Linked DNA regions of Homo sapiens: regions 1, 2 and 3 are each linked to region 4. The links come from fine-mapping of genetic effects on gene expression. A gene starts in region 4. Each other region holds a variant in brackets. All regions are shown on one strand. Distances are from middle to middle. Region 1 overlaps FNBP1 (formin binding protein 1). Region 2 overlaps USP20 (ubiquitin specific peptidase 20). Region 3 overlaps FNBP1 (formin binding protein 1). Region 4 holds the start of USP20 (ubiquitin specific peptidase 20).

Region 1 (5,144 bases), 50 kb after region 4:
GATGTCACCCTGGCTCCCCTAGGCTTCTGCTTCCCTGCCGCTATCAGATACGAGCGTACAGAAACATTTCAGCGTATGCAAGGATAACACGGTGACAAGGAACCAAGATGACACATTGCCAGTTCCATGGAAAGCCTGGGGCCCCTCCGGAGTCGGCCACCTTGCCTGACCCCAGAGGTGGCTCTTTGCATGTGGTTCCCTCATCCCGCCTTTTTTTTTTTTTTTTTTCCTGAAAAAAGCTTCATTTTATTATTATTTTTTGAGACAGAGTCTCACTCTGTTGCCCAGGCTGGAGTGCAGTGGTATAATCTCAACTCACTGCAACCTCTGCCTCCTGGGGTTCAAGCAATTCTCCTGCCTCAGCCTCTGGAGTAGCTGGGTCTACAGGCATGTGCCACGACGCCTGGCTAATTTTATTTTTTATTTTATTTATTTTTAGTAGAGACGGGGTTTCACGGTGTTAGCTAGGATGGTCTCGATCTCATGACCTTGTGATCTGCCTGCCTCAGCCTCCCAAAGTGCTGGGATTACAGGCATGAGCCACCACACCCGGCCAAAACATCATTTTAAAATTGAGCTTTCTGACTGTGCTCCTGCCCTTAACACCTTCCCAGCAACTTTCTGCTCCTTGATGAGGAAGGCACACTTGATCCTGTCGGGAACACGTTCACACAGAAGCACCAGATGCACTGCTGATGGGTTTTTTGTTTGTAGACAGGGTCTCACTGTGTTGCCCAGGCTGGCCTCGAACTCCTAGGCTCAAGTGATCCTTCTGCCTCAGCCTCCCAAAGTGCTGGGATTACAGGCGTGAGCCACCACGCCTGGCCGCTTGCTGACATGTTTTTGCTTTGGGGCAGTCTCATAGGAGCTTTAGGTCTCACAGCACAAACCCCTCGGAGTCAGCCCAGGCCCATGCCATGTGCAGACTTTGGCAGTTTCCCAATCTTGGTATAAAGGTAAACGATTCTCTTCCCAGGGGTTCGGGCCGGCCTAGTGCTGTTAGAGGCTGTATTCTAGGAAAGCCTATGACGGTTTGGGAAACTGGGCCATGCTGAGTGCCTGTAGACAGCGTTCCCGGAAGAGGAAAAAGCAACCTTTGTCTTTATGTGGGAATCTCTAAGCAATATTTTTGGCTTTGTTTACATTTGAAGGTTAGATATGTGTCAATCCACGTGATTGACATTGAACATGGAAAATGAGAATGAAAGTTTTGTCTGGAAGATTTATTTAGGAGGTTTGGAGACAGTTCTTGCACTACAGAAAGGTGGGCTGGAAATAGGTACCAATTTGCCTTAAAACGTTTCTTTTAAAATACCTGGCTTTTAAGGAGTTCAGACTGAGATGCCAAGATCTGAAGTCTGTGCTTGATTACTGAGCAGGGACAGGAAGTGCTCGGTGACTGGGGAGGCGGGGCTCAGGCCTCGCTCCCCACGGTGCCCCACGGTGGCTCCTCCTCCGCGCTAAGCCAGGGCGTGGCTTCAGCAGCGCTTCTTAGAGGAGCCGGAAAGGCGCCCCTGCACCGTGGGGGAGGCTGCAGGAGACCTGCCGCCTGCCTGTGGTTCTGTCGGCCATGGCGCTGCTCACAAACCTGCATCCGAATACATTTGCAAGGCGCAGCCACCCAAAAAGTGTAGTTCCTACCTTTGTTCTGTTTTAAATTCAGTGCAAACATAAATTATCCTGAGGGTCTTAATGCTACCTAATTTTGAGCCCCAGAGAGCCTTGGGGGAAGTGAGCAGAGGTTTCGGAATCACAGCCCCCTCTGGCTCGTCCCTTCTGCAACTTCACCTACACAGAGAGACACCTGCTACCTGGACGGAGCAAGGGTGAGCTGGGCGCAGAAGAAACACACGCCTTTGGGGAAAGCTAGGAGCAGTAGACAGCCTAGGCAATGTATGTTCTGGAAGGGTGTCCCAGGGTTTCTCAGGGTGCAGCCTCCATTCCTTCCTTCGATTTGACCCGGGACCAGCCTAGATGAGGGGGCCTGTGGAGAGCTGGAACTGGAAACAGGTTCTCAAGGGCAGGGCTCGGCACAGCGTGGCAGCCAGGGGCTGTGCGGACTGAAGGGATGCGGCCCTGTCCTAGGCTGAGACGTCCGTCCAGCAGGTGCCGCAGGGAGGAAGGGAGCCTTCCCCATCCCCGACGGGGACAGTGGGTCCGTGTTTCCTCCCACAGCTTTCGGCCCCTTAGCTCTGAGGACAAGGATAGGGTCCTTCCTCTGCTTCTTCTGTACCTTTTGTGGTCCGGAGATGTCCCCGGCGGAGGTCACTATACCATCTGGAGGTCTAACGGGAGGCAGGAGTGCTCAAGTCAAGGCCGAATGGGCACTCAGTGGGACCCTGGAGAAGCAGCTGACACACCAAGGGGCTGCCACGTGCCTGCTGGCAGCCTTCACACGCTCATCCCGGGTCTCAGAGGGCGCTGGCAACACAGATCCCTGCCTCCCCTATCGGGAAAGCGTTTTAGGACCAGGGAAAAGGAGGCCTCCCCCAGGCGAGTGCGCAGAGCCAGGGAACCCGTCTGGATGGTGGCTCTTTCCCACCATCCTTCTCTGGCAGCAGCAGTTCAAAGTGGAGCTTCCAGGCTGTCCCATACATTTCACGATTTCTGAGTCTTTCGCTTCAATTTAAAAAAAGCTGGGGGCACGACCGAATCCTGCCTCTGTCCACCGCCATCTCGTTCCTCA[T/C]CGCAGGGGGCCCTTCTTGCTCCCTCCACTGCTGCGCTCTGCCGTCTGCTCCCGCCAGGGGTCCCCACCACCTCTGCGGACGGAGGAGCCGCCTCCCAGGCCCGGGCGTGCCCAGGGCGGGTGGAGGGCGTGGGGCGGGCCGGTATTTCCTGACCCGCTGGAGGAGCCGGCCCCACAGGCTTGTGGCCTCCCCGGAGCCGGTGAGTCAGGAACTTCCTACTTCAAGAGGCTTCCCCAGTGCAGCAGAAAACAAACTAGTCGCCCCCAATGCTCCCGACCTCTGTGATGTCCACACCCGCGGAAATGGGGGCCCCAAACCAGCAGGCTCTGTTCTAGGCTTCTCAGCGCTGGTGCGGCTCTTGGAGAAGGCTCGGCAGGGGCGGGTGGGGCATGGGGGGGTTCACAGGTGGAGACAGCCCGTCTCCGCCCCACAGACGGCTGGGCGCAGTCCCGAAATATTCTTCCCAAGTGGACTTTTTTGCTGACAACCTAGAGGAGAGGGTTTCGGGTAGGATAACAGTAGATCCACCTTGTTCCCTTGTGCCACACTGTGTCACACTGGGAACCAGCAATTCTCAATGGTGCCTTGAAGCCAACTGCACGCACTTGTGGTTAGAGGTTACCAATGGCCCCATATTGGTGCCCTCACCTCCTGCCCTCCGCAAGTGAGGATGCTTGGCATCAGCAGAGCTGCCAGGTCTGCACTTGGTGTAGCTGCGAATATGTCATTTCCTGGACAACTGTTTTCCTAAAACAGTGCTAAAAAAAAAAAAAAAAAAACCCTTGGGACACAGAGAAGTGTGGGCACAAACCAATCCTATCTTCCCCCAAAAGGCCAGGGTGAAATTTTCAAAGCTGGCTGTGGAAACGGGGCCTCCCACTGCACATGTCCAGCCAGTGCCAGGCACAAGGCTGCTGCCCTTTCGAGTTGTCCACGTGAAACAGCTCCGCACTGCCTGCAGCTTCACAGAAACTAGTGATTCCAGCCACGCCACCAGGAGTACCGGCTTGAGCACTGGTGATACCAGATAAATAATGAAACTCAGGTGTGCCCTCATTTCACCACCTCCTCCTGCCCCAGCCCCAAGCAATGAGGTCCCCAAAGAGCTAGAGCAGCAACCAGTTGAATGTGCATGCAAAAAATACTCCTGGCCATAAGCAGCCTCTCGCAATCCTCGCACTACATCAGCCCGAATTCCACGTCACCACGGTCTGAGAGCCTCCCCCTCCACCGTGGATGGGGGTGGAACTGAGAGCTATCTAGGTCTCCAGCTCCTCCCAGGGGCCAGCTCCCCAGCCCAGGGGGCTTCCAATGACACCAGGCTGCTTCCACAACTAGGGTCATATCTTCATGCAACAAAACAGTCCCGTGACACGGAGCCACAAGTTATATTTTATTTTAACACGAGATTAACATATAGTTACAAGGTCAATACAAGCCTCCAGTGGAAGCTCTTTATTTGGTTTAATTCCATCTCCAGAGACAAACAGGCAACTCTAGGACCTTTACAGTGGCGATCGGCCTCACACAGCAAAATGCCTCCAAAGTTTAGAATTAGTGCAACACACATACGAACATTTTAAAGGTGCTCAACATCAGGTTAAAATAGAATTCTGGACCTTTTTAAAAAGTTTTTGGATGATATAAGCACAGGAGGCAGAGCCAATAAGAAACATGAAACCAATATTTCTGGAAAAACACTTAGCATGAACGTCACTTTTTGACGTCGTGTAAACTTTCTTCTGCAATGACGGATGTTACCAAAAGGCATCGAGACCTTTGCGCTGCGCTGGTTAGACAAGCCGCAGGCTTATCTCCACGGTGAGCAGGATAAAAACCCCCAAGGAACAGCCCATGACAACCTTCTGTGCCTTTTTATACTTTCCCATCCTACAAAGGAAAAACTGGGTAAAGGACAAGTTCCTCCCTTTCACTGCGTTTCTAAGAACTTTTCAGGGCAGGTTCTTTTAAAATTAGTCATCTTACAACACAACAGTATTCTAGCACGGTGGCGAAGTGACAGGCGGCAGATACGGGGGAGGAAGGAGACGTTCACGGGAAATTCCACATTCTACTCTATGTGAACTGCTCCAGAAAAATACAGACATGATTTCACAGTAGGATTCCCAGAGTAAATGATGATACATAGGACAACTGACCTCCTCTAAGAAGCCCGGCTGGGGCAGCAGTGAGCTTTTCATGGAGCCACGCAGACTGGCCCGGAAGCAACACCCAGGTTCAACATTTAAGAGCACTCGCTATAACATTCTTTTTGGACGCAGGTGGTGGAAAAGTTTAAAAAACAGGCGGAGGAGTGACGGGGGGATACAAGCATATCCTATACTGGGGGTGACGGTCATTCAAAGAGCAAATTACTGCAGCTTATATCTTTTCCACTATGTTGCAAGAAATGAATCTATCCTGACCCATAATATGAAAGATGTGACGCACATGCAT
Region 2 (5,144 bases), 31 kb after region 4:
TCTAATAAAAATACAAAAATTAGCTGGGTGTGGTGGCGTGTGCCTGTAGTCCCAGCTACTCGGGAGGCTGAGGCAGGAGAATCACTTGAACCTGGGAGGCGGAGGTGGCAGTGAGCCGAGATCGCACCACTGCACTCCAGCCTGTTGACAAAGCGAGACTCTGTCTCAAAAAAAAAAAAACAAAAACAAAACAAACCAGCATGGGAGAAATATGTATTAAATGTAGAAGCAGATTAAAAACCAGCGTGGGGCCAGATGCAGTCACTGACACCTGTAAATCCAGCACTTTGGGAGGCCGAGGCAGGAGAATCATTTGAGCCTAGGAGTTTGAGACCGGCCTGGACAACACAGCAAGACCCCGCCTCTACAAAAACTACAAAATTAGCTGAGTGTGGTGTGAGCACTTGTGGTCCCAGCTACTCAGGAGGCTGAGGTGGGAGGATCGCTTGAGTCCAGGAAGTTGAGGCAGGCTGCAGTGAGCTTGATCATGCCATTGCACTTCAGCCTGGGCGACAGAGTGAGACCCTGTCTCAAAAAAAAAAAAAAAAAAAAAAAAGTCTGTGTGCAGTGGCTCACTCCTGTAATCCCAGTACTTTGGGAGGCCGAGGCGGGTGGATCGCAAGGTCAGGAGTTCGAGACCAGCCTGGCCAATGTGGTGAAACCCCGTCTCTACTAAAAATACAAAAATTAGCTGGGCATGGTGGCGCGCACCTGTATTCCCAGCACTTTGGGAGGCTGAGACAGGAGAATCACTTGAACTCGGGAGGCGGAGGTTGCAGCAAGCCAAGATCATGCCACTGCACTCTAGCCTGGGAAACAGAGCAAGACTCTGTCCCAAAAAAAAAAAAAAAAAAACCCAGCATGGTACAATATAATTCCGCTTGTGTAAGAAGCCAAGTTTAAATGTGTATCTGTATGTATTTTTGTATATGCATCTGTAGTTTCACAGAACCAGAAATCTAATGGTAAGTATCTGGTGCCATTGGTGGTGGTGTTTTTCTCTTGTACTTTTCTGAAATTTTAGATTTGTCAATAATGAACATGTCTTACTTTTGAAATGAGAAAACCACAGTAAGTGTTTCAGAATGAAAACAAATCATGTTTAGGCGAGTTTGTTGTGCACCAGAAGGAAATGATGCTATTTTATTTGAGCTCTTTGCTTAATTGAGGCAGCTATGACTTGACATTTTCTTCTTGTCTGTAGAGATGTGTGAGCCTCTTGGGGCTCCTGGCTGAGTAGGCCCCTCCCCAAATGTCAGGAAACGCCACACTCTGATCCAGCCTGACGGGCTGGCTGCCTGCTTCTCTCGGGAATGAGCAGCTCAAGGCAGGCTACCTGGACTAATGGGTTTGGGCTTCCTACAGGCCAAGCTACGTGGTCCCCACCAGTCTGTCTCATGGGATCAAGTTGGTCAACCCAATGTTCCGAGGCTATGCCCAGCAGGTAAGCCATCTGAGCTGCCCAGGGGACACCCAAGGCCATGACCCACCAGGCCTGACTTTGACGCCAAAACCAGAGTGGAAAATCGCAATGGCAGCTGAGCACTGGTTGGCAGGTCTCACGGACCAGGCTCTCACTCCTAAGCCCTTCACACGTGTGAGGACAGTGGAGCCTCCCAGCAACCTGCTGACATTTAACCCCACTTCACAGATGGACAGACTGAGGTTCAGGGGCCGAGCCACTTGCACAGGCCACACAGCTAGTAAATGGTGGAGGGGAATTCTTTTTTTTGTGGGGGAGGGTGGGTACAGGGTCTCACTCTGTCACCCAGGCTGGAGTGCAGTGGTGCAGTCATGGCTTACTGCACCCTCGACCTCCCGGGCTCAAGCAGTCGTCCCACCTCAGGCTCCGAAAGTGCTGTGATTATAGGCATGAGCCACTGCACCCGGCGGAGGGGAGATTTGAACCCAGGCAACCTTGCTGCAGGGCCTCCGCGTTGCACCCAAAATGACACAGGGTTTCATTTCCCCAAACCACAGGCAAAATTTCACTTTTATTAAAGTAAAAAGTTTGATTAAAAATTTTTTTTAAATCTAGAGAACC[C/G]TTTTGAAACCAATCACATTTTTCTATTTTATAAAATAATGAGACCAAGACAGAGTGCAGCCACGCGTACACCTCAGCCCCGGGCTGATGGCTCCTGCCCTCCAGCCTCCTGCCCCAGATGGCCCACAGCCTGGGCTTTCATGCCAGGCCTGCAGGCAGAGCTGGACCTGGCTGGGTCACCTCTTGTGCTGCCTGAAATGAGCACCATGGACGGAGTGGCAGTCATGTGGGGACAACTTCCGCCCTCTACCCCCTGCCTGCTGTCCCGTCCCAGGATGAAGTCTGCTGGGCCTTTGGCTCCTGCTTGAGAAGCTCAGCACTGCCTGGACACCTCTCTTTTTGGGGAGTGATAACATGCACAATGACTAAAATTCACTGAGCACCATTTAAGTGGTCACAACTTAGTCCTCATAGAAGTCTCACAAAGTGGGCACTGTTGTCACCCACACGTTACAGGTAAAGAGCTGAGGCTCAGAGAGGTTCTACCCCTCACCCAGGTCACACAGCACATCCTGGCAGAGATGGCATTCAGGCCTACCTGAGCCCATCCCTCAGCACAGCACCACCCTGACTGTGTGCAAGGCGCCCTGCCGGCTTTCAGCTCTGGGTCAGGATGCCGTTACGGAGGGCCATGCGCTGCGGCAGGACTCCATCTGGGCTCCGGCAGAAGCATCCCTTTCTGTGGTTTTAGGATATCGTGTGGGGACACTTCTGAGGCTGAACTGTAGACGCAGCTGCGGGCGCCTCTTAAGGGCCAAAAGACTCTTTTGTGCTTCTGCATGGATTGAGATTTTGGCAAGGAACACATAGTACTTTTGTTGAAAGGAAGAACCAGAAAGAGAAGTAGATGGCAGATTGAAAGCCTCTTCTTGAAAGGGCCTTTGATCGTGCCTGCCACAGGACACGTGTCCCCTCCCTGATGCAATGTAACCTCGTGGTTCATTCCTCTGATCTTGGAGCCTGACACTTTGCCTTGGGGAGTCCCTCCTGAGCCCTCCCTTCCCTGCACATGAGTGGAGAGAGCCGGGATCCTCTTCCCAGATGTGTGACATGAGGCTGGCTCTGGCTGCTACGTGACCCCTGCCTCCTGGGGATCAGAGCCTGGGCTGAGGGCTGCTTCTAACAACCAGGTCAGGGACTGCTGGGGCTGATTTGGGCTCGGAACCCAAGTCCTTCTCCAATGCCCAGCACCACCCGAGCACCCGCTAGCTGCTGGGGTCTGCTGCCACCACCACGTTCTGACCTCCCAGTGCACCCCCTGTGTGAGCACACAGATCTCAGTGGGGCTCACTGGGCGCCTCTGCCCGAGCCCCTGCTGCCTTGGCTTCCTGCTGTGCTGGTGGCCCAGTCACAGAGTGGTCAGGATAAAATGGTCATTGCTGGGATTTGAGACCCAGGCAGCCTGCAGGGGCAGCTTAGACTGAGTCATGACCAGGTCTGTGGGAAGGTGAGAGCAGGCAGTGAGGGTATGTGGGGGCTGGCACAGGGACTGAGGGAGCAGGGGGAGCCAGAGGAAGGGTAGAGCATGCAGGCAGTCTGGCCTGTGGGTAGCGTGGCTTGGGGCAGGACTCGGGTGAGTCCTCTTTTGGCATCACACTCCCTCATCCTTCCGCCACCCCCCTGCCCACCTCCACTGGTCTCATCTGTAGGGAGAAAGGTGGCTCGGGCTTAATGTGGTACTGCCTCTCTGTCCCTCCCGTGCTGAGCTTGCAGCAGAGGCAGGAGATTCAGAGCCGGAGCCGGGGAGTTGCATGGACCCAGGTGCATACCTGGCTCTGACACTTTCTAGCTGTGTGTCCTGGTAGGTGTCCTTTAGCCTCTCCAGTCCTCACTGTTATCCTCAGAAGAATGGGGTTAGGACAGACTGCCATGGGAGGCCGCTGTGGGGGTGAGCAACTCTTCTGCAGGGGGCGCCCATGAGGTCCTCCTAGATGGAGGCTGGCGCTCTCATCAGCCACAGGGCGCTGGAGACTGGTTCCTCCTGCCTCCAGGGGAGCCCTGTTGATGCAGCCCCTGGTTCTAGGACACCCAAGAGTTCCTTCGCTGCCTGATGGACCAGCTGCACGAGGAGCTCAAGGAGCCGGTGGTGGCCACGGTGGCGCTGACGGAGGCTCGGGACTCAGATTCGAGTGACACGGATGAGAAACGGGAGGGTGACCGGAGCCCATCAGAAGATGAGTTCTTGTCCTGTGACTCGAGCAGTGACCGGGGTGAGGGTGACGGGCAGGGGCGTGGCGGGGGCAGCTCGCAGGCCGAGACGGAGCTGCTGATCCCAGATGAGGCGGGCCGAGCCATCTCTGAGAAGGAGCGGATGAAGGACCGCAAGTTCTCCTGGGGCCAGCAGCGTACAAACTCGGAGCAAGTGGACGAGGACGCTGATGTGGACACTGCCATGGCTGCCCTTGACGACCAGCCCGCGGAGGCCCAGCCCCCGTCACCACGGTCCTCCAGCCCCTGCCGGACGCCAGGTATCAGCTGGCCGGGGACTGCGGGAGGAACCTCAGCCTATGGCCCAGTACCTACCGGGTGCTGAGCGCCGACCTGCAGTAGCCCCCGGGGGACGGGTTCTTCACTAGACCCGAATGACAGTGGGGAAGTCAGCCTCCGGGGGGGCTCAGTGATGTGCCCAGGGTCCCCTAGCTCATAATGCTGGAGCCCAATTCAGAGCCCTCTCCCAGAGCCCTGAGCCTTCCAGCCGGACATGGATTGGACAGGTCTGCTCCGGCCTGTGTGCTGGGGCCAGGAGTGGGCACATGACAGAGGAGACACATTAGGGTCAGGCTTTCGTCCCTTTAGGAGGGGCTGGCAGGTCATCTTCCTGCCCACTCGTGGAGCTGGCCTGGCTGCCCTGGCCCAGCATGGTACCCTCTCTGCCCCCAGAGCCGGACAATGATGCTCACCTACGCAGCTCCTCTCGCCCCTGCAGCCCCGTCCACCACCACGAGGGCCATGCCAAGCTGTCTAGCAGCCCCCCTCGTGCAAGCCCCGTGAGGATGGCACCGTCGTACGTGCTCAAGAAAGGTTCGGGGGGCACGGGAGGGTGGGTCAGCTTGAGGCTGGGAGTACAGATTACGCCCGTAGCTGCCTTTCTCATGGCCCC
Region 3 (5,144 bases), 65 kb after region 4:
CTGCTAGGGGACCTCCCATAGCTCCTCAATGTTTGCCACATAAAACCCAGATGTTTCCCTACCTCGCCCCCATTGGCACTTCCCACTCTTTAGTGCCACATTTCACTATTAGGACTTAAGACATCTAAGCTCCAGCCACACCACACCCATTTCTGGCCACACCCCCCATGCCATGGCAAGTTCTCCAAACTTCCTTAAGGAAGCGACCTCATTCTCCCCTGTCCTCCCCGTTCCTCTGTATCCCTCTTCTGGCAAACACTGCAAACTGCCTGCTTTTTTTTTTTGAGAGGGAGTCTTGCTCTGTTGCCAGGCTGGAGTAAAGTGGCACGACCTCGGCTCACTGCCACCTCCGACTCCTGGTTTAAGTGAGTCTCCTGCTTCAGCCTCCCAAGTAGCTGGAATTACAGGCATGCGCTACCACGCTTAGCTGATTTTTGTATTTTTAGTAGAGATGGGGTTTCACCATGTTGGCCAGGATGGTCTCGATCTCCTGACCTCACGATCCGCCTGCCTCGGCCTCCCAAAGTGCTGGGATTACAGGCGTGAGCCACTGCACCCAGCCGCTGCTTGCTCCTTAAGTGTGTCTGCCTGATTTCCCTCTGGGCAGGTGCCATATCATACGACCTGCATCCCCCCACTTCATGGGCCTTTACAAGACAGGAGCGCTATAGATACTAGATATTAAATGAATGGATGAAATGATCATCCTCCCTATCGTCTGCTGCAGTGAAGCAAGCTCTCTGGAAGCTGTTAAGTTATACGAACCAAAAGTCAAAATATACAACCAAATAATAATCATACCATGAGTAGGATAAAAGCATAGTAGAGAAGGATCTGGAAGGCTGCTGCTGCAGCTTTTTTTTTTTTTTTGAGACAGAGTCTCGTTCTGTCACCCAGGCTGGAGTACAGTGGCGCTATCTCAGCTCACTGCAACCTCCGCCTCCCGGGTTCAAGTGATTCTCGTGCCTCAGCCTCCCGAGCAGCTGGGATTACAGGCGCCTGCCAGCATGCCCAGCCAGTTTTTGTATTTTTAGTAGAGATGGGATTTCACCATGTTGGCGAGGCTGGTCTTGAACTCCTGGCCTCAAGTGACCTGCCCGCCTCAGCCTCCCAAAGTTCTAGGATTACAGGTGTGAGCCACCATGCCCGGCCAGATCTGGAAGGCTTCTAAAGAAAGTTCTGGTCACAGAAAGAGAAGAGTGTGGCTAGGCACAGTGGCTCACACCTGTGATCACAGCACTTTGGGAGGCTGAGGCAGGAGTACTGCTTGAATCCAGGAGTTCAACACCAGCCTGGGCAACATAGTGAGACCCTGTCTCTACTGAAAAGTACAAAAAGTACAAAAGTACAAAAATGAGCCGGACATGGTGGTGCTTGCCTGTAGTCCCAGCTACTCAGGAGGCTGAGGTTGGAGGATCACTTGAGCCCAGGAGGTCAAGGCTGCAGTGAGCCATGATTGCACCACTGCACTCTAACTTGGGCAAGAGAGCGAGACCCTGTATGAAAAAAAGGAAGGAAGGAAGGAAGGGAAGGAAGGGAAGGAAGGGAAGGGAGGGAAGGGAAGGGAAGGAAGGAAGGGGAAGGGGAAGGGGAAGGGGAAGGGAAGGTAGGAAGGAAGGAAGGAAGGACAAAGGAATAAAAATGATCAGAAGGAAGGAAGGAAGGAAAAGTGAAAGAAGAGTAACTCAGATATTATGGTTTATAAAAGGCAGGGGAATCCAGCAGACATGAAATGTCACCTTCAAATGTGTAGAGAGCTTTGCACGTCCCTATGGCAGGGAGGGGCTCCTCATCATCAAACTCGTCGTCAAAATCCGTGGCCAGCACCTTCATCTCACTCTCCTGACTCTGCTCCTCTGTGTAACTGCCATCTGGGCTGCTCAAGAAAGGAAAACACAAAGCAACTAAAGCGACTGACCCCAGGGAGGACTCAGATTGAGTCCCTGCGACTGGAGAGCACTTGCAACCCCGCCCCTCAGCGAGTGCTGTAACTGAGGCCATGGTAAATCATCGCACGCTCAGATCACCCATCCCATGTGGAATTATAAATCTGCATCATGGAAAAAGTGACAGGTCAATCGCAACAGACATTTTGGCATTGAACAAGTGCCTTATGGTCATTCCAGATTCCAAAATTTAGAAATAAATACAAAGCCAACAGGCTCCCTTGCCAGAGGCAGGCGCTGTGCAGATACTGTACCTCTCACGGTCCTGGGC[G/A]CAGTTGTTGACTGTGGGTGGGTTCTGGCTGTCGTACAGTCCGCTCTGCCGGCGCGCCTGCTCGCTGCGTGCTGGGAGCCGGCCTTCAACCTCAGCCAGCCAGGCCTGGAGACAAAAGCAATGAGAGACTCCAACCTAAGGCCATCTGAGGGTCAGCCCAGAGTGTCCTAAGGTCCCAAAGGCCATCTGAGGGCCAGCCCGGAGCATCCTAAGGTCCCAAACTCAGGGGCTACTCTTGGCCATTTAACCCAATGTGAGGAAGTCCACGTGGGGGCAGAATGGCCACGTTTTCTGCCTTCGACTGTTCAAATGTACTGAAGGACGGTTGCTTCCATTTCACCCGAAGTTGGAGACATAGAAACAAACTCATATTTATGTGGTTGCCCACGATGGGGCAGAAAGCACACTGGACTATGCTATCCCCTTGGGCTTTTAAGCAGCAGTGCAGTCTTGGATAAGTCACTTCTAGTTCCTTCTTGACCATGAGGTCGCCCTGTGATACCTGAAGGTACAGCCATGCTTAAAGCAGTGACTCAGTTTGAAAGCCACACTTCCTATTTTTTAGGAGTGTAACTTTTTTTTTTGATAGAAATGAAACTTGTACTTAAAAATTAAAGTAGATAAAATGACCTTCAGCATTTGAAACAGTATAAACAAGTCAAAGGAATAAAAATGACGAGAAGGCCGGGCGCGGTGGCCACACCTGTAATCCCAGCACTTTGGGAGGCCGAGGTGGGTGAATCACTTCAGGTTGGGAGTTTCAGACCAGCCTGGCCAACATGGTGAAACGCTGTCTCTACTAAGAGTACAAAAATTAGCTGGGGGTGGTGGTGAGCGCCTGTAATCCCAGCACTTTGGGAGAGGTGGGCAGATCACCTGAGGTCAGGAGTTCGAGACCAGCCTGGCCAACATGGTGAAACTCCATCTCCATTAAAAATACAAAAATTAGCTGGGCATGGTGGCACATGCCTGTAGTCCCAGCTACTCGGGAGGCTGAGGCACGAGAATCACTGGAACTCAGGAGGTGGAGGTTACAGTGAGTCGAGACTGCACCACTGCACTCCAGCTTGGGTGACAGAGCGAGACTCTGTCTCAAAAAAAAGAATAATAATAAGAAAAGGACCGTTCTAAGTTCTAAATGCTCAAATGAACATTAATGATGGATTCTGAAAAGAATGGAAAAAGCTGGCCAGGTGTGGTGGCTCACGCCTGTAATCCCAGCACTTTGGGAAGCCAAGGTGGGTGGAGCATCTGAGGTCAGGAGTTCGAGACCAGCCTGGCCAACATGGCAAAACCCTGTCTCTACCAAAAATACAAAAAGTAGCCGGGTGTGGTGGTACACACCTGTAGTCCCAGCTACTCAGGAGGCTGAGGCAGGAGAATCACTTGAACCTGGGAAGTGGAGGTCACACTGAGGTGAGATCACGCTACTACACTCCAGCCTGGGCAACAGGGCGAGACTTCATCTCAAAAAAAAGAATGAAAAAAGCCATAGTTGACCCTTCATTGCTGGAAACAATCTATTCTGACTGGTAGAATCGGTTGCTAATGTATTTTTCCATGCTCTGTAGTCTTTAAACGTGGTAGGGAGAGTGGGTTCAGGAGGCTTTTGTTGACAGCTTTTGAGTGCTCCTCTCCCTCCCTCAAGCTTTGATTATTTATGTTTCCTGCTTGTTTCTCCTTTGTGTTTGCTGCTGGTTCTCACACACACCCTTTCCATAATGGGCCTGCTGAGAGAACAATTGTATATTTCAGGGGATTTTTTTCATTGCTTCTTTGATTCACTGGGATAACGGATCGCTCTATACTCCCAATTTTATTACCATGAGATGAAGCAGAATAACTTAAAGTACAAAAAATACTGGCCAGGCACAGTGGCTCACAGTGGCTCACAGCTGTAATCCCAGCACTCTGGGAGGCCAAGGTGGGAGGATGGCTTAAGGCCAGGAGTTCAAGACCAGTCTGTGCAACAGAGCAAGACCTCAACTCTAAAACAAATAAAAAATTGAAAAATAAAAGTTAGCCAGGTATGGTGGCATGTGCCTGTAATCCCAGCTCCTCAAAGGCTGAGCCAAGGAGATCAAGGCTGCAGTGAGCTACAAGCATGCCACTGTACTCCAGCCTGGGCAACAAAGCAAAATCCTGTCTCTAAAATTAAAAAACAACCCCGCCAACCCCGCACCGTATACAGATACAACATTAAACATTGTCAGGTTTTACAGCCACGATTAAGATAGGCTATGATGAGTAGGAGAATGTTCAACGGCGAAGAGTGTATTTTTCCTTTGACCATAACTCCTGAAACAGCCTGCCATTCCCACTGTGTACCTCCCAGTGAGAGGATCGTCAGGGCCCCACACCATTCTACACCGAGGAACACCTGTTCTTCGTTTCCAACAAAGCTTTCCACAACAGAAGTTTCATACCTCAAATTTCTGGGTCTCTACTCGCAGTTTCTCTATATTTTGGCTGACTTCTGCTAATTTGTGATCCAAACTGGCTGGGTCTCCCATCTGAGGATTCTTTAGGTAGACATCTTTCATTTTTGTTATGGCATCTCTGAAAGAAAGAACGAGTAGAATGCTGTAAAGGTTACTCCATTTTTTTTTTAGACAGTTTCACTCTTGTCACCCAGGCTGGAGTGCAATGGTGCGATCTCGGCTCACTGCAACGATCTTGGCTCACTGCAACCTTCACCTCCAGGGTTCAAGCAATTCTGCTGCCTCAGCCTCCAGAATAGCTGGGATTACAGGTGCATGCCACCACACCCACCTAATTTTTGTATTTTTAGTAGAGATGGGGTTTTGCCACGTTGGCCAGGCTGGTCTTGAACTCCTGACCTTAGGTGATCTGCCTGCCTCAGCCTCCTAAAGTGCTGGGATTATAGGCGTGAGCTACCGCACCACCCGGCAAAGGTTACTCTTATC
Region 4 (5,144 bases):
GCTCTAAGTTAACTTTTAAAGACTTTTTGCTTTCTTTGTTTTTAAATAACACACCCTTTGCAAAGCACAAAACCTGCTTCAAGATGTCCTACTAATGCTGCTGCTACAGGCCCCAGCTCTCTGAGGGAACCTAGACCCAGGCAGCCGCTAAAGGTGAATTTGCATCTAAGCTTGTCCTGAACTTACTTATCTTTGCCCCTTTCCTTCAGTTTCTTCATATCCACCATACCACCTGTCTTCATCTGAAAGGGATCATCCTGCAGAAAGCAAACACAGTTAAGAGGAAGCATCTAAATACATGGTAGTGGAATTTTTTTTTTTGTGAAGCACGCTCACTCACTGAAGAGCACTGCAGGGAGGGCTGCCATAACTACTCAGGGAAGACCCCATAACTTACCACTAGAGTGGTCTCCTCTTGTACCTTCTCTCCCACCAGCAAGGCCACAGCACTGAGCAAAACCAAAAAAAAAAGAGAGGGGGAGAGAGAGAAATGGCATAATTCAGAGATAAGGAGGAACCCTCTCAGGTATGCGGATTGCAACATTAGTGCAAGGGTGGGATTTGAGGGGTGGGTAGGCAAGCCGGCTGGAAAAGCCTATAAGCATAAGACAGGGCTCAACGAGCACCGCAGATGCTGGAAGAAGGGTGCGCTGGTGGTGAAGTGGTACACTTTGCCACTTTCCTGTAAAGCCATTTGGCATTATCTTGGCCTGGAAATCTCATTTCTAAGATATTCTCATCATGGAAAGTGCAGCTAAAGATAAATTTAAGAGAATATCCACTGCAGCCTTATTTGATAGTAAAAATTTACAAAATCACCTACATGTCCCAAAATAGGGGATTTGTTAACAAATTACAATACACACATCTGGTGGAATATTATGCAGCCATTAAGGCTTTCTGAAAAATATTCCACAATATGGGTGAATGCCCACAATGTCATAATGAGTTGAAAAGAACAGGGAATAAAAGTACATAGAAAGTTGTTCACAATCTGAGAGAGAGAGACGAAAAAAAACAGATTGGAAAGAGTATTCAATATTAATACCAGTGCATTCTTGGGTGGCTCTGCAAGGAAAAAAAATGTTAACACTGATCATTTCCGGATGGGAGAATTATGGGTGCTTTTTATCGTCTTGACTATACTTTTCTAAATTATACAAACTCTTAACGATCGATATGCATTTCACAATTAATTGGTTTTAATAAAAAACGCGAGTTAGTGATCTGTTTCTGTATCTCTGGAGCACACCCCGAGACGACACAGCTCAGGGCATGTCCTGGTTAAACATTTGCAAAGAACGCTGTTCTCCAAGTTGGGCAGTGGAAGGTGTACAGTGTGTCAAGAGAAAAATCTACGTCTGAGGAGATATTTGTGACAGCGACCCGGACGCGGATGTGTCTGTCGTCCCCGCCGCCTCCTCCTCCTCCCCGCGTGGTACCCACCTCACCCCGTTGGGCCTCTTCCTCAAGTTCTGTACCTCTCTGGTCTCTTCCAGTTTTAATCTTTAAAAAGAAGAAGAAGCAGCAATGCATAAGCTGAGTGATTCCCCGCGGAATCCAAAGCTAACAGAGCCAATAAGGCACCTTCGAGGGCATCCCAGCCCAGCTACTGAGCCACCAGCACAGTGGTCCAGAGGACGACCTTGTGCCTAGACCCACCGGGAGTCAGAGCCACTGCGCATCCCGGAGGCATCTCTCTCAACCGTTCGAGCTTGGGGCGGTGGCCTCACCCCTTGAGCCTCAATTTCTGCGTCCGCAGAAGGAACCACCACCCGAGCTCACAGTTAACAATGTCAGCGAAGCGCCGAGCCGGTGGTGAGTCCCCCAAACAAGTCTATCTTTACCAAGCCTATGGGAGCCCCGCCCCAAACGCACCGAACCTCCTCTGAGTCCTGCTCATCTTCCTCTGACTCCGAGTCGCCCCGGCGGCGACGGAAAATCTTCCGGACGACCGGCATGGTGACAACGGCCGAGTTGTACAGCCGCCGCGCCTCTGCGCAGCGGCCCAGGCTGCTTCCGGCGCGCGGCAGAGCGGTCAGAGCGCCTGCCCCGTCTGGCCCCGCCCCCGGCACGCACAGTCCGCGTGGCCACGCCCCCTCTCCTGGCGTCAGCCTCTTCCGATTGGACGGCAGAGGGAAGGAGGTGGGGCGTCGCCAGACGGCCCCACAACCCTGCGCGTCGCCTCAGAGGGGGCGCGCTTGACTGACAGGCGGCGGCGGCGCAGTTGCGAGTGCAGGTGAGTTCCGGGCCGCCACCGGCTGCTTCTGTGGGCCGGGCCTCTGAGCATTGGCGACCCCAGCCCGGCTCCGGGCTGACAGGGCCTGGCTTCGCCAGGTACGCCAGACGCAGCGGCCCGGTGAGCGGAGCCCGGGACCCCCCCGGCCGCCGCCGCCCCTCTCCCCTCCTCCGGTCGGCGCCCAGGGGGGCCTCTGGGCCCCAGCACCACCCCACTCTGAGCTCCCTGGGGGCTCGTGGCTTCTCCAGAACCGGGGCCGCCCCCCTCTCATTTCTGCCGGGGCCTGACCTAGCGTTGAAAGCATCCGCGTGGCGTCTCGCGTCTCGGGCGCTGACTTTTCTTTCCTCGGGCTCTGAGCCCTGACGTGCGTTTTTTTCTTTCGGAACAAAAGATGACCACTTCTCTGCGGTGCTGACTTAGAGTCCCAGCGCCGACTGCCTCACAAATAATGGCCCCCAGCTTCTCCGCGAGGAGAGGCGCGTCTGATGTTTTGAAGCCACGCAAGAGGGTTTGAGCCGGGGGACTCCTCCTCGGTGCTTGCCGGCCACCCCCCTGGACCTTCACGGGTCTGGTTTTCCTCCTTCGGCAGGTCTGTCGCTCTACCCTCTGCCCCTTCCACCCCGAAGATGCTGTGAGGATAAAGTTTATTTGAAAAACTGGTATCAGCAAACGCTTAGGAAATACCTAAATGCATAAATAATGGCTTCTAGGACTTTTAAGAACCCCTTAAGTAACAGTAGTTTTCCTTTTCTCAGTGTCATCCCTTACTTTGAGAACTACCTCTTATTAAGCAGTTACTATGTGGCAGGCCCTGGGCAAAGCATCATCTCATTGAATTCTCCCAGCAATCCTTTGAGGTAGATTGTTTTTCGTTTTACAAATGAGAATGCGGAGTCTCCGAGGGGCAGTGCACGCCTCAAGTTACCCAGCTAGGAGGTGGAACAGGAATTGGTTGCAGGTCAGTCTCTGCCGCACGGTTTGCACAGGGCCTGGCACGGTAGGAGTGCAGTAGATGTTTGCTGCTGCTGCAGCTGCTGTTACATCTCATTGGCTAGGGGGAGGGGCCGATGGGGGCTGTCTGGGGTTCCCCTTTCTGGAAGACCATTCCGAAGCAGGGCAGCATTTCTAGAATGCCTTACGTTTTCTCTGGAACAGTCTCCACTGAGATTGTTCTTCTCTTCCTTGGGCTGGAAAAAATAGTAGACTCGGGACTTCTTGCACCAGCGTTTTATCTTTGGTCAAAAGCCATATATTAAAGTCTCAAAGTCTTGCCCTCTGCAGACTGGTTCAGCCAAACCCAGATGCACGTGCACTCACTGGATACGGAGTCCCTGTCAGATGATGGAGAGGCTCCTTGGGAATTGCTGCAGGAGTCCAGGGGGTCAACGTCTGCAGCTCTCACGCTCTCAGAGGTGGCTCTGAATCTGCCCATCAAGCAGCCCATCCACCAGGGGGTACTGGACACTACTAAGGAAAGGGCAAGAAGGCCAGGGGCATTTCTGGACCCTCCTCCTCAGCTGAAGTCCCAGGGTACAGATGAGCTGCTCCCACCCTTGCTCCATGAGGCCAGAGGACCCAGTGATAACCACCACCTGTGCTGTGGCAGATCTAATTGAGTGCTCTTTAGCAAAAGGAATGCTGAAAAAGTGGCAGCTATGAATCTGGCAGTAAGTGGCTTTGCCAAGAGACTGCAGCCCAAGTCTCACTGGGCCCTTTTAAGCGTAGGATGAGACTGTCTCTCAAAAGGACCCTCCGAGAAATACAGGTTCTATGCAGTTCAAAGATGAATCCAAGGTCTTAGTCTTGTTTGGGAGTTCAGTTGTTTTAAGAAAATGTACAGATTCAACCTAGGTTTTGGTTGGTTTCCTAGCTCCTTTCTGGAGCCAGATGAAATGTTGGCTTGTTTCAGGGTTCAGGGAGCATTCATGTCCGATTGGATTTGGGATCCAGCAACGTGATACAGTTCACAGCCCAGCTATAGTCGGCATCCAATAAATGTATTTATTGGATCAATGTATTCAACAGATTCTTAGCATTTACTATATGAGCAGGCACTGTTCTAAGTGCTTGAAATAAGTCAGCAAAAGAGACAAAAGATCCCTGATTAGTTGAGTGTATGTTCTCACAGTAAAGTATGTAAAGTGTGTTAGAAGATGGTAAGTGCTGTGGAAAAGAAACAAATAGAGCAAAACAAGGGAATCACCTCCGGGAGGGTGGCAAGGTTGAGTTGCAAATTAAAATTAGCGCATTCTGGTTTGGGATTTGGTTGGAAACATGACAGATAAAGCAGTGGATTGAATGATAGGCCTTGGGTTCCAGTCACTGCCTGGTGGTTTTAGGGGTCTGTAAGCTTGAACTTTATTTTACAAAAGCTTTTATTTAGAGTGTACACCCTGAACTCAAGTCCTGATTGTGGGGTATTTAACAGTGATGAAAGAGCCAGGCTGTTCTTAGCCTTTTACCTTAGCAAGACAAACAGTATCCAACTGGTTCTCATTAGCATGAAGGAGGAAACTTGGAGAAGCCATGCACGTTGACAACAATTTTTTTTTTTTTTTTTGAGACGGAGTCTCACTCAGTTGCCTAGGCTGGAGTGCAGTGGTGCGATCTTGGCTCACTCCAACCTCCGCCTCCCAGGTTCAAGTGATTCTCCTGCCTCAGACTCCTGAGTAGCTGGGATTACAGGCGCCCACCACCACACCTGGCTAATTTATGTATTTTTAGTAGAGACGGGGTTTCACCATGTTGGCCAGGCTGGTCTCAAATTCCTAACCTTGAGTGATCCGCCCGCCTCAGCCTCCCAAAGTGCTGGGATTACAGGTGTGAGCCACTGTGCCCGGCTAACAACAAATATTTAAAGGCAGGAAAGTGGCAGTGCTCTTTGGCTCCAGTGAGCAGTCATGGC

Evidence for each region.
Region 1: its variant is fine-mapped to the expression of USP20 in whole blood (TOPMed, PIP above 0.99).
Region 2: its variant is fine-mapped to the expression of USP20 in lung (TOPMed, PIP above 0.99).
Region 3: its variant is fine-mapped to the expression of USP20 in thyroid (GTEx, PIP 0.97).

What each region holds. Positions count from the first base shown.
Region 1 is chr9:129,883,120-129,888,263 of GRCh38, forward strand. It overlaps FNBP1 (formin binding protein 1), which reads right to left. Exons shown (of 17, transcript NM_015033.3): 17 at 4,068-5,144. Among named protein-coding and RNA genes, the nearest start is that of MIR6855, 16 kb to the left of the region's middle. RefSeq lists enhancers at 1,291-1,585, 1,577-1,886, 1,685-2,366, 2,417-2,466, 5,077-5,144 and a silencer at 2,657-2,906. The variant T/C (reference allele first, on the strand shown) is at 2,687.
Region 2 is chr9:129,863,938-129,869,081 of GRCh38, forward strand. USP20 (ubiquitin specific peptidase 20) reads left to right here. Exons shown (of 26, transcript NM_001110303.4): 10 at 1,366-1,444; 11 at 4,068-4,512; 12 at 4,925-5,065. Among named protein-coding and RNA genes, the nearest start is that of MIR6855, 3.1 kb to the right of the region's middle. RefSeq lists a silencer at 993-1,287. The variant C/G (reference allele first, on the strand shown) is at 2,045.
Region 3 is chr9:129,898,226-129,903,369 of GRCh38, forward strand. It overlaps FNBP1 (formin binding protein 1), which reads right to left. Exons shown (of 17, transcript NM_015033.3): 13 at 4,644-4,776; 14 at 2,201-2,322; 15 at 1,740-1,876. Among named protein-coding and RNA genes, the nearest start is that of MIR6855, 31 kb to the left of the region's middle. RefSeq lists an enhancer at 2,438-2,557. The variant G/A (reference allele first, on the strand shown) is at 2,218.
Region 4 is chr9:129,833,261-129,838,404 of GRCh38, forward strand. It overlaps USP20 (ubiquitin specific peptidase 20), which reads left to right and starts at 2,198. Exons shown (of 26, transcript NM_001110303.4): 1 at 2,198-2,239. It overlaps C9orf78 (chromosome 9 open reading frame 78), which reads right to left and starts at 2,015. Exons shown (of 9, transcript NM_016520.3): 1 at 1,879-2,015; 2 at 1,447-1,506; 3 at 398-449; 4 at 187-257. The coding sequence starts at 1,961. RefSeq lists silencers at 1,947-2,296, 2,327-2,476 and an enhancer at 2,448-2,948.